Regions from separate parts of the Homo sapiens genome. Here region 2 is linked to region 1. Evidence: fine-mapped expression QTL. Tissue or cell type: skeletal muscle. Region 1 holds a variant in brackets; the other region holds the start of a gene. All regions are shown on one strand. Distances are from middle to middle.

Region 1 (5,495 bases):
CGAGCATGTGCTCGGGCTGAGGGTCTTGGCAGCGTGGGGCCTCTTACCCCCCTTTGCTTCCTAGTGCCCTGAAAGTCAAGCTTGAAAATATCAATTTGCTGCTGGGCACGGTGGCTCACACCTATAATCCCAGCACTTTGGGAGGCAAGGCGGGCAGATCACTTGTGGTCAGGAGTTTGAGACCAACCTGGCCAACATGGTGAAACCCTATCTCTACTAAAAATACAAAAAATTAGCCAGCTGTGGTGGTACATGTCCATAGTCCCAGCTACTTGGGAGGCTAAGTTGGGAGGATCCCTTGAACCTGGGAGGCAGAGGTTGCAGTGAGCCAAGATCGCATCACTGCACTCCAGCCTGGATGACAGAGCAAGACTGTCTCGAAAAAAGAAAATACCAGTTTTCAAATAAGCCAGTTCAGAATTTAAAACTGTTAGACCATGCATGAAGATAATTGGGAGATTTTTGATATCAGTATATTTTCAAAGATATCTAATTCCTCGAATCAGTTAAAACAGAGTTCTAGGAATTATATTTTAAAAGAAACGCCTGTTGGGCTTTTGGAGGGGATTTTTGTTTTGTCTTATTTTTACTTTCCAAATAATTAATAGAGACACTGTAATTATTTGTGTGGAATGCATTGATTTTACCAGCCACAGTAAACTTGATATTGTTAAGTGGATTGTGATGCTGTCTGTTCACATATCCTGCAGTAAGCAAGACGGGCACTTCATTGATGGTGTGTGTTCTCTGAGAGCCTGATAATCTGTTCACATATCCTGCAGTAAGCGAGACGGGCACTTTATTGATGGTGTGTGTTCTCTGTGAGCCTGATAATTTGGGGGGCATCAAGGTCATGGTGGGGACCTGAGGTACACTGTGCCTCCAGGAGGGAGTAGCCTGAGGGATGTGTGACCAAGAGTCTCTGAAGAATGCCGGAATTCTAAAGGGAGGAAGAAAATGGATAAAGAAAAACACAGAGGAAGTGGGCAAGAGAATGGAAAGAGCTTTGAGTTTGTGTTTTGTTTCCTGAAAACCTGGGTTCTGCTACTTATAAAACTGTGAGTCCCACCTTGGGCAAATTACTTACCTCTATTTGCATTTGTAAGAGATATGAATATACACCCCCTTGTATGGTCTGCCTGTCCCCTGTAGCCCTCCCAGGGGGCGCTGAAGCGCACCCAGGTCAATGCACTGAGAAGCAGCGGAGAGTGTGGTTAAGAGCAGGGAGTCTGGGGGGCACAGTGGTGTGGAATGCCAGCTCTGCCACCCACTGGCTGTGTGGCCCTGGCCAAGTTACTTAGCCTTTCTGATCTAGTTTCTTCCACTGTGAAATGGCAATAATAATAGTACCCACTGTTGTTATAATGAGTGTATTAGGATTCTCTAAAGAAACAGAGCCAATAGGAGATATATGTATATTTGGAGAGATTGATTTTAAGGAATGGCTCACACAATTGGGAAGGCTGGCAAGTCCAAAATTGCAAGGCAGGCTGATGAGATGAGGCCCTCCCTCACTGTGGAGAGTGATCTGCTTCACTCAAAGTCAACAGATTGGGCCGGGCACCATGGCTCATGCCTGTAATACCAGCACTTTGGGAGGCCAAGACAGGCAGATCACCTGAGGTCAAGAGTTTGAGACCAGCCTAGCCAATATGGTGAAACCCCATCTTTACTAAAAATACAAAAAATTAGCTGGGCGTGGTGGTGCATGCCTATAATCCCAGCTACGCCAGAGGCTGAGGCAGGAGAATCACTTAAACCCAGGATGTGGAGGTTGAGGTGGGCCAAGATAGCGTCCCCACACTCCAGCTTGGATGACAGAGTGAGACACCGTCTCAAAAAATAAATAAATAAATAAGAAAAAAAAAAGCAAAGTCAACTGGCTGAACAGTTTATCTCTTCTAAACAAAATACCTCCCCAGTCACATCTGGACATATTTAACCACATTTCTGGGGACTGTGGCCTAGCCATGTTGTCAGACAAAATTAGTCATCACAAAAGTAAATGACAGCTTGTCACTTTCACGAGCACAGCCGATCCTTTCCAGTCTCCTCCCCGGCCTCATCCTGAGCACATTGTGCACGTTGCAATGGTCCTATCAGCTTGAACGGCACGGTATGCGGGTGCCAGTTACTCCCTGTGCCCTCCCTGAGTCTGTGCGGGGACCTGTTACTCCCTGCACCCTCACCGAGTCTGTGCAGGTACCAGCCACTCCCTGCACCTTCACCAAGTCTGTGTGGGTACCAGTTACTCCCTATGCCCTCACCAAGTCTATTTATTCTGAATGCTTGTGATCAATAACAGTTTCTGGCATAATGCTAGGTACCCAACTAAAATGTCTGTTGAATGGTTGAATCACATGAGAATAATTTTAGGGTTTTTTGTTTTCTTTTGTTTTTAAGAGACAGGGTCTCCCTCTGTCACCCAGGCTAGAGTGCAATGGTGTGATCATAGCTCACTACAGTCTCTATCTCAAGAGCTGAAGCAATCCTCCCACCTCAGCCCCCTGAAGAACTGGGAGTACAAGGGTGGTCACCAGGCCTAGCTAATTTGGGGGGCTTTTTTGAGACGGAGTCTCACTCTGTCGCCCAAGCTGGCGTGCTGTGGCAAGATCTCAGCTCACTACAACCTCCGCCTCCCAGGTTCAAGTGATTCTAGTGCCTCAGCCTCCCAAGTAGCTGGGATTACAGGTGCCCACCACCACCCCAGGCTAATTTTTGTATTTTTTTAGTAAAGATGGGGTTTCACTATGTTGCCTAGGTGGTCTCGAACTCCTGAGCTCAAGTGATCCACCCACCTCAGCTTCCCACAGTCGTGGGATGACAGGCGTGAGCTACCATGTCTAGCCAATTTAGATATCTTTAAAAGGCAATTTAAGATACTCTGATATGCCTGTAATCCCAGCACTTTGGGAGGCCAAGGTGGGCAGATCACGAGGTTAGGAGATCAAGACCATCCTGGCTAACACGGTGAAACCTCGTCTCTACTAAAAATACAAAAAATTAGCCGGGTGTGGTGGCGGGCGCCTGTAGTCCCAGCTACTCAGGAGGCTGAGACAGGAGAATGGCGTAAGTAAACCCGGGAG[G/A]CAGAGCTTGCGGTGAGCTGCTCAGTCAATGTATACATTGACTGTATACATAGAATTTACCTTTATGTATATATGTATATGTACACGTTATAAAAGGATGATGTTTAAGCTCTTGTTTAGAGGGAGGACAGTTCTATTGGATTTTTTTTCTATCTTGGAGCCTCCATCCCTGCTGTTTATTTTTTGCTTCTCATTTTTGCCTTCTCTTTTTTAATGAGTATATTTGAATATGGAGGAATAAGGCTGGGGCTCCTAATATAAGGAAGCCTTCCCTAGGGATTCCTGTATGGGTTGTGTGCACTGTAACTATATGGCACAGGTGTATGAAAGCAGCATCCTTGCTTTCCTCGGTGGACTTTATATACAGTTCACAAATAACAAACTTAAAGAAGTTTTTGATGTCCATGGCAGATGGAACTATCTCTGCATCCTAATCTCCAGGCCCTGTGGATATTACCTTATACGGTCAAGGGACTTGGTGGAAGTGATGAAGAATCTGGAGATGGGGTGATTCTCATGGACTTTCTGGGTGGGCCCACGGCCATCACAAGGGCCCTTATGAGCAGGATGCAAGAGGAGCCAGAATCAGATTAGGAGACGGCAGTGTGAGGATGGGAGCGCAGGCCGGAGCCATGCACTTTGGAAATGCGAGAAGGGGACCCAAGCCAAGGAATACAGGCACCCACTGGAAGCCAAAATCAGCAAGCAAGGGATTCTCCCTTCTGAGCCTCCAGGAGAAACCGGCCCTGTGGACTCCTTGACTTGAGACCAGAGAAACTGGTTTTGGACCTCTGACCTCCAGGAGTATAAGAAAGTAAATCTGTGCTGTTTTAAGACCCTATTATTTGTGGTAATGTTTTTTATAGCAGCAATAGGAAATGAATACAATACAGAAATTGGTGAAAACAGAGGTGTGTGCATTGTTAGGAAGCCTCTGAAATATAAGTTAGCCCATTCTCTGTTTCCTCTCTGAAAAAATAACCATGACAGTACATTGGGAATCTTCATTGTGAAGTTGACCTATTTCCGCTTCCTTTTTTTTTTGAGACGGAGTCCTGCACTGTCAGCCAGACTGGCATGCAGTGGTGCAGTCACAGATCACTGCAGCCTCGACCTCCCAAGCTCAAGCAATCCTCCCACCTCAGCCCCCTGAGTAGCTGGGACGACAGGCACACACCACCACACCTGGCTAATTTGTTTTATTGTTTATTTTCCGTAGACACAAGGTCTCACCATGTTGCCCGGGCTGGTCTCAAATTCCTGGCCTCAAGTGATCCATCTCAGCCTCCCAAAGAGCTGGGATTATAGGCGTGAGCCAACGCGCCCGGCCGAAATGGTCTTTTTAACTTCACATTTACTATGAAAAATGTAACTGCCAAATTCCTGGTTGTAACAGATTGCATGTATGCAGAAAAAAGCCAACGTTTGTGGATAGTCATTCAAAAATAACCAAATGAATTAAAATGTTTTCTGAAAACTTTAAGATGGACATTTCAAAGAAACCATATGTTTTTTCACTTATTATACTCAATAGAAGCCTGCATATTTCATAAGACTTTTGTTGCTATTACATTAATTGTAATATTATCTAAGTAGAAATTAAAATATTTTAGTTAAATAAAAAATCTAAAGACGGTATTAGATCAGGAAAAAAATGGGGAATGGGCCAACACATCTTAAGCACATAAAACAATTTAATAATTAGCTGCTATTTATGATTACAGTAATCGATCATCTCAAATAGTTTAATACTTTAAATTATCTATTTTTGAGGTAAATCAAAATAACTGCCAATTCCAAATTGTTTAACAGCCAGAAATGGCACAGATAGCAACTTGTGAATCTATTAATAATTTTTCATCTAAATTGGGTTTGGCCAACTGTGGCCTGAAAGCTAAGAATCATTTTTACATTTTTAAATGATTAAAGAAAAAAATCAAATGGGGGAATGTTGATCAAGGGGTACAAAGTTTTAGTTCTTCAGGATGATTAAGCTCCAGAGACTTAATGCAAAGCCTGCTAACTGTTGTTAATAGGACTGTACTGTATACTTAAAATTTACTAAGAGGGTGGATTCAAAGTGTTCTCACCACCAAGAGAAAGAAGATGAAAAAACAATGGTAACTGTAAAGTGATGGATATGTTAATTAGCTTGATGTATATATCAAAACATCAGGTCAGACATCTTAAGTACATAAAATTTTTGTTTTTCAACTGTACGTCAATAAATATGGGGGAAATGAATCAAAAGGAGAATATCTCATGGGTCGAAAATTACATGAAATTTATACGTAAGCATCCCTAAATAAAGTTTCACTGGAACCTTGCCAGGCCCATCTGCTGGCATATTGTCTGTGAGTGCTTTTGCACTACAACGCAGGGTTGAATCATTGCAACAGAAACTTATAT
Region 2 (5,495 bases), 130 kb before region 1:
CAGTTAAGATTGTGAACCCAACTTGATTCAGTTTATTAAGATTTCTTCCACCCTGAAACATTCTGGAACTCTATACTAAGATCACAAACACCAGTGTTTTGAGTGAACAATAAGACTTAGAAAAATGGCATAGAATGGGATTTTTTTTCTATTTTAAATATTTCCATCTGAAATAATTATAGACTCATAAAAAGTTACAAAAATAGTACAGAGAGGTCACATCTATCCTTCTCCCAGCTTCCCCCAATTGTAACATCTTATATAACTGTAGTACACTGTCAATGCCAGGAAATGAACATTGGCACCATAGTATTCACTAGATTTGCACTTCACTGGGATTAGAGCAGGTTCAAACAATTTGGACACTCCTGGAGGTAATTTGAATCATTTGCATAAAATTTATTCTCAGAAGTAACATGGTATAGGGAATTTACACTTATCAGATCTTTGTATTGTGGGCAAGTTGTTTAATGGCACCAAGCCTCGGTTTGTTCATCTGTGAAATGGAAACAATGATACCTACCAAATAAGTTGTTATGAGGAAATAGCTCCAGTTCAGTGAGTGCCATATATTAGGAACTTTGATGCCATATATTAGGCTTAGATGCAGGAATCAGAAGAAGGAGGGAATCCAGCAGTCCCTATTTCTTTCTGCCTTCCTGACTACCTGCCACCCTGTGCAGGTGCGTGATTTGCGCAAATTGCAGCATTGGTCCTAAGGGTGACTATAAAACCCATATGGGCTTCTGTACGTCCTAGTTTTTCTCATGTCTCACAGTCATTTGTCTTTTATAAGCCAACTGGGCAAGTGCCATCCTTCATTCTTTTTTTGGTACGGTGCCTGCCATGTCTAAATGCTCAATTAATGAAATTACAGTAATAACCCTCCTTCTGGCCTGGTGTTCTGGAAGCAGTGTGGGGTGGATGATGGGTCTGGAGTGGATTTTCCTAGGTCCCCAGTGGAAGTCGGAAGGTCACCGCAGTGCTAGTTGGAAGAGAAGGTGGAGAGGGACAAGTGGAGGTGAAGGTTGTGTGGAAGGCATACCGACAGGAGTGGGTTGAGAGAAAGAAAAGTTGAGGTTGGAATGGAGGGGGTCCCTAGGCTCAAGGAAAGTCTAGAGGTTTGGTTTTGTTTTGTGTGTGGTTTTTTTGGTGGTTTTATTTTTTGATTTTTTTTTTTTTTTTTTTTTGAGACGGGGTCTCAGTCTGTCATCCAGGCTGGAGTGCAGTGGCACGATCTTGGCTCACTGCAACCTCCCCACTCCCAGGTTCAAGCGATCCTCCCACCTCAGCCTCCTGAGTAGTTGGGACCACAGGCATGGGCCACTATGCCTGGTTAATTTTTTTGTATTTTTGGTAGAGACAGGGTTTCACCATGTTGGCCCAGCTGGTCTCTTAACTCCTGAACTCAGGCCATCCACCTACCTCAGCCTCCCAAAGTGTTGGGATTATAGGCATGAACCATCACACCCAGCCAAGTCTGGAGGTTTTTGTGAAGAGTTTCAATTTTGGGGTCAGACTGACTGTTTTATTAGAATTTTGGCTCTGCCACTGACCAGGTATGCACTTTTGGACAAATTCCTTAACCCTCTTTAGCCTCTTTTCTCATCTGTGAATGGGGGGGATAATGCTAACTACCTCTTAGATCATGTATTGTGAAGATGGACAAAGAGTCTCTGCTTGACCGAACTACAGTCAGGCTCCGGAACCTTCTTCTAGGCTCAGTTGTGCCCTTCCTTGTAAAATCTGCTTTCAGGAAGAACCCTGCTAAGTCAGTTTACCAAGAACCCTCCACCCTGGATATCTGATCAGCTTCCCCATCCGCCCTGTCCTGCCCAGCCCTGCCAGGGGATGTCTGACTTTCAAGAATCCCCCTTCCCCCTGATGTTTCCTCTTATAATTTTTCATTCCCTGCATCCCACCCTGGTCCTCGGTTATAAATCCCCACTTGTTCCTGCTGTATTCAGAGTTGAACCCAACCTTTCTCCCCGACTGCAGAATCCCATGGTAGGGCTTATACCTATTGCGATGGTTCCAAAGAGGGTCTTCTTTGCTGTGCTTTCACACGTGTCATGGAATAGTCTTTTTTCTTTAATAGGACAGAAAGTTTTAAAGCACCTAGGGCCTCAAAAGATGTGGATTTCCTCCCCACCCTAACCCCTAGAACCATCCAAGTACCATTCCTCCTGAAGCTGTCCACCCGCCAACACGTAGGTACTGCAGGCCTACTGCAGTCTATACTGGCTTGGGGAGTGTTTTTGCGGATCTTTAACACTGGGTGTGAAATCTACGTTGGGGGACACAACTACATTAGGATGGCACCTGGTGGGGGGGTCACACCCAGATACAATGTCTCCTGCGGCCCCTTGGGTGACCTGGTGTGATGAAAAGGGCTCCGCCCTGAAAGGCAGGTCTGGCTCTTCTGCGGGGCTGCGGGGATGGGGCGCGCCGGGGCAGTGTCGCCGGGGGTCGGGCTGGGGGCGCGACGCAGCGGCGCCGGGCGGGGGCGCCCTCGGCGCCGCAGCCGCCAGGTGGCACCACGGGCCCGGGGCCTGGGCGCGGGCAGCGGCGGCGGCGGCGGGCGAGGCAGGAAGGGGTTAAGGAGCTGGCGGAGCAGCAGCAGCCGCCGCCGCCGCCGCCGCCGCGGCTCTTCGGGGAAACCCGGCGCGGGGCGCGGGAGGGAGCGGCCGGGGCGGCGGGGCCGGGCCAATCGGGCGGCGGGCCCGGCGCGCGGAGCCAGCGACATGGAGGGGGGCGCGGCGCCCGGCCGCCCGTGACGCGCCGCCGCCCGGCCCGCTCTCGGCGAGCCCGAGCCGCCGCCGGCCCCGCGGCGGAGATGAGCAGGTCCGCGACGCTGCTGCTGTGCCTGCTGGGCTGCCACGTCTGGAAGGCGGTGACCAAGACGCTGCGGGAGCCCGGCGCCGGAGCCCAAGGTCAGTGGGCGGCGGCGGGGCCGGGGGCTTTGTGTCGCGCCGGGCCTGGCGCGGAGGCGGCGGCGGCGGCGGCGGCGGCGGGAGGGTCCCGGGCCGCGTGGTGGCGACGCAGCCCGAGCCGCATCGGGAGCCTCCGGGCCTGCAGCACCCGCAACGCGCTCCCGAGGGGGCGGCGCGGGCCGGCGACGCGGGGTGACCCGGGCGGAGGCTTCGGGGGCCGGGGATCGGGGGCTGGGTCGGGCGGGGGCGCGGGCAGCTCCAGCTGCTGTCGCCGCTGCGGCGGGGGCTCGTCTGGATGCGCCCGGGGGTCCCCTTTATGCCGCGCCTCGGACACGCGGCTCTGTCTCCCATGTCGCCGCGGACAGAGGGGCCGCCCAGGGCGCGCCGCCCGATCGCGCTCCCGGCTCCCCACGCCGGGCTCGGGTCTGGGAAGTCCCAGCTCCTGGGCTGCGCTGGGGCCTTTTGTTGTGGCGGGAGGGGGTGGCTGACGCCCCGGGGTGCCCCCTGTGTCCCGGGGCCCCGAGGTCCGCTGCCGCCACTAGCCACTAGCCTGCCGCAGTTTGGGAAAGTTTGGGGGGTTCTCTCCCCCTGCCTATCTGACGTCTCTTCCAGACCATAAGGGATTTGCTCAGCGGCCCATGAGTCTTCTCTGTAAGGGAAGAAAGAATTGAACTGGGAGGCCCTCATCGCTCACCAAAAAAAAAAAAAAAAAAAAGAAAAATCCTTTCCAGATCAGTTTGTCGCCAGCTCGTGCCTTTTGTCTCGTCTTTGGCCTCCACAAATCTGCTTTCCAGCCCTGGGAGTAACGTGGTCGCCTCTGAGAATGGCCACGAGCCTGTCTTTTGTTTTTAAAATCAGCGTTTTTTGAGGGGAGTCCCCCACACCCACCCTGAGGCTTGCTTGGCACATTTTTGTGGGGACAGCGTCGAGGACTCCTCTGTTGCTGGCGTTTTCAAAAGGGCCACTGAGGCCCGCAGATGAGCCTCTGCATTCACCCAGGGCACCGCTGCCTGGACTCTTGCCGGGGGCTCAGGTCTCTGCGAGGGAGCTCCCTGCAGCCCTGCAGAACCCCGGGATTCCGAGCCCGAGGCCTGTCCCCTCAGAAGGGTGTGTGTCCTGCAAAGTTGGCCCTGCAGGCCAAAGAAACGAGGAGTGCTGCATCCGAGGGTCTCCTTGCTGGAACCCCCTTTCCTCGGCTAACATGCTCAGGGTGCCTGGGAGCAGAGACGCCCGGGCTTCCACCACGATGTTGCTACGGGGAGGAAAGGCTCTGCCAACACTCTGTTGGGTTGAGTTTGTTGCCTACATGTTGAGTTGAAGGTTTTCATATTCTGGCACTTGCAGTATCATTTCCTGGTATATCTTAAATGCATTGCTGCTTCTATGGCCATGGTAGAATATGACCGTTATGAATTGTGTATAATTTTAGTAATGCATATCATGGAAGAGCGGACAGCTACAAAATACAAAAAGACCTATATGTCTCTTCGTGTAGGAAACGAATGTTTAGGACATTAGATCATCAGTGTTGCATTGCAGCTTCTTTTATTAATACCCTACTGCTTTTTTGAATCAGCTATTTTAGAGAATGATATTTGCACTTCAGCGAGGCCGTTAATTTTAAAGAGCAAGTTGAATTTTTCCTTTTGCACTTGAAATACCAATATATGGAAATATTAAATTCATGCACTTCTGAATTAGAGAAAGGAAGGCATGTCTTCAATATATATATATATATATATTCAATATATATATAACAGGTTTAGGTCTAAGACCACGTTTTACCCAGCTCTTGCTGCTAAAAATCCGCCTCTCAGGAATGGAATATTATGCGAAATGGGAGGGAAATGGTCAACATGAGAAGAGGTTTCTGCCATGGCTAGCAGTGGCTTAGTTTAGGGTATGGTTGGAGTGGGAGATCAAGTATCTTGGCATAGTTTACCCCTTGGATTACTTCCTTTGTTGTTATCTACTGTAAGGATGGCTTTTTAAAGCCTTGAGCCCAGGAACTCTTTCAGAAATCAGGTCTCACTACCTGGCATTTGGATTTTGAGCTAGCAGCATTTTTAAGGGAATGGACAATTTCTCCTTTGACATTAGAAGGTCAGTCCCAACTCACTGAGTTCTTCAAAGCATCTTAATGTTCACTTGCTGTAGTATGACGTAGTTTTAAAATTCATGTGTTCTCTGCTTTCCTGGATCATGTACACGATGAAGACAAATGCTGCATCTGATTTCACTTTGCATTTCCCACAGTGGGTTGTAGGTTGTTATGCATACAGTTGGTGCTCAGATGGTGCTGAGTAGGTAAGCATCAACCATAGCTAATACCTACACCATAACGCAACCTTTAGTGATCATCATTGGCTTGCATTTTAAGAAGAAAAGTTCAATGTTTACCTTCCCCAAAAGCTAATTTGTAAGAATCTTGCTTTTATGTAGAATCTGTTGTTTGAATCATTCTTTGAACAAGCATTGCACATACATATTATGCACCAACAGGATTTGGCAATTACTTTGGTAAAACTGCTTAGAGACCTCAAACAGACGGAAATCATATAC

The links. PIP is the estimated chance that this variant, and not a neighbour inherited with it, causes the effect.
Region 2: FAM171A1 starts here. The variant in region 1 is fine-mapped to the expression of FAM171A1 in skeletal muscle (FUSION, PIP 0.95).

Annotation. Positions count from the first base shown.
Region 1 is chr10:15,241,426-15,246,920 of GRCh38, reverse strand. The region is part of intron 5 of FAM171A1 (family with sequence similarity 171 member A1); the gene reads left to right. Among named protein-coding and RNA genes, the nearest start is that of FAM171A1-AS1, 36 kb to the right of the region's middle. The variant G/A (reference allele first, on the strand shown) is at 3,087.
Region 2 is chr10:15,368,394-15,373,888 of GRCh38, reverse strand. FAM171A1 (family with sequence similarity 171 member A1) reads left to right here and starts at 2,600. Exons shown (of 8, transcript NM_001010924.2): 1 at 2,600-2,933. The coding sequence starts at 2,837. RefSeq lists silencers at 2,554-2,603, 2,614-2,843.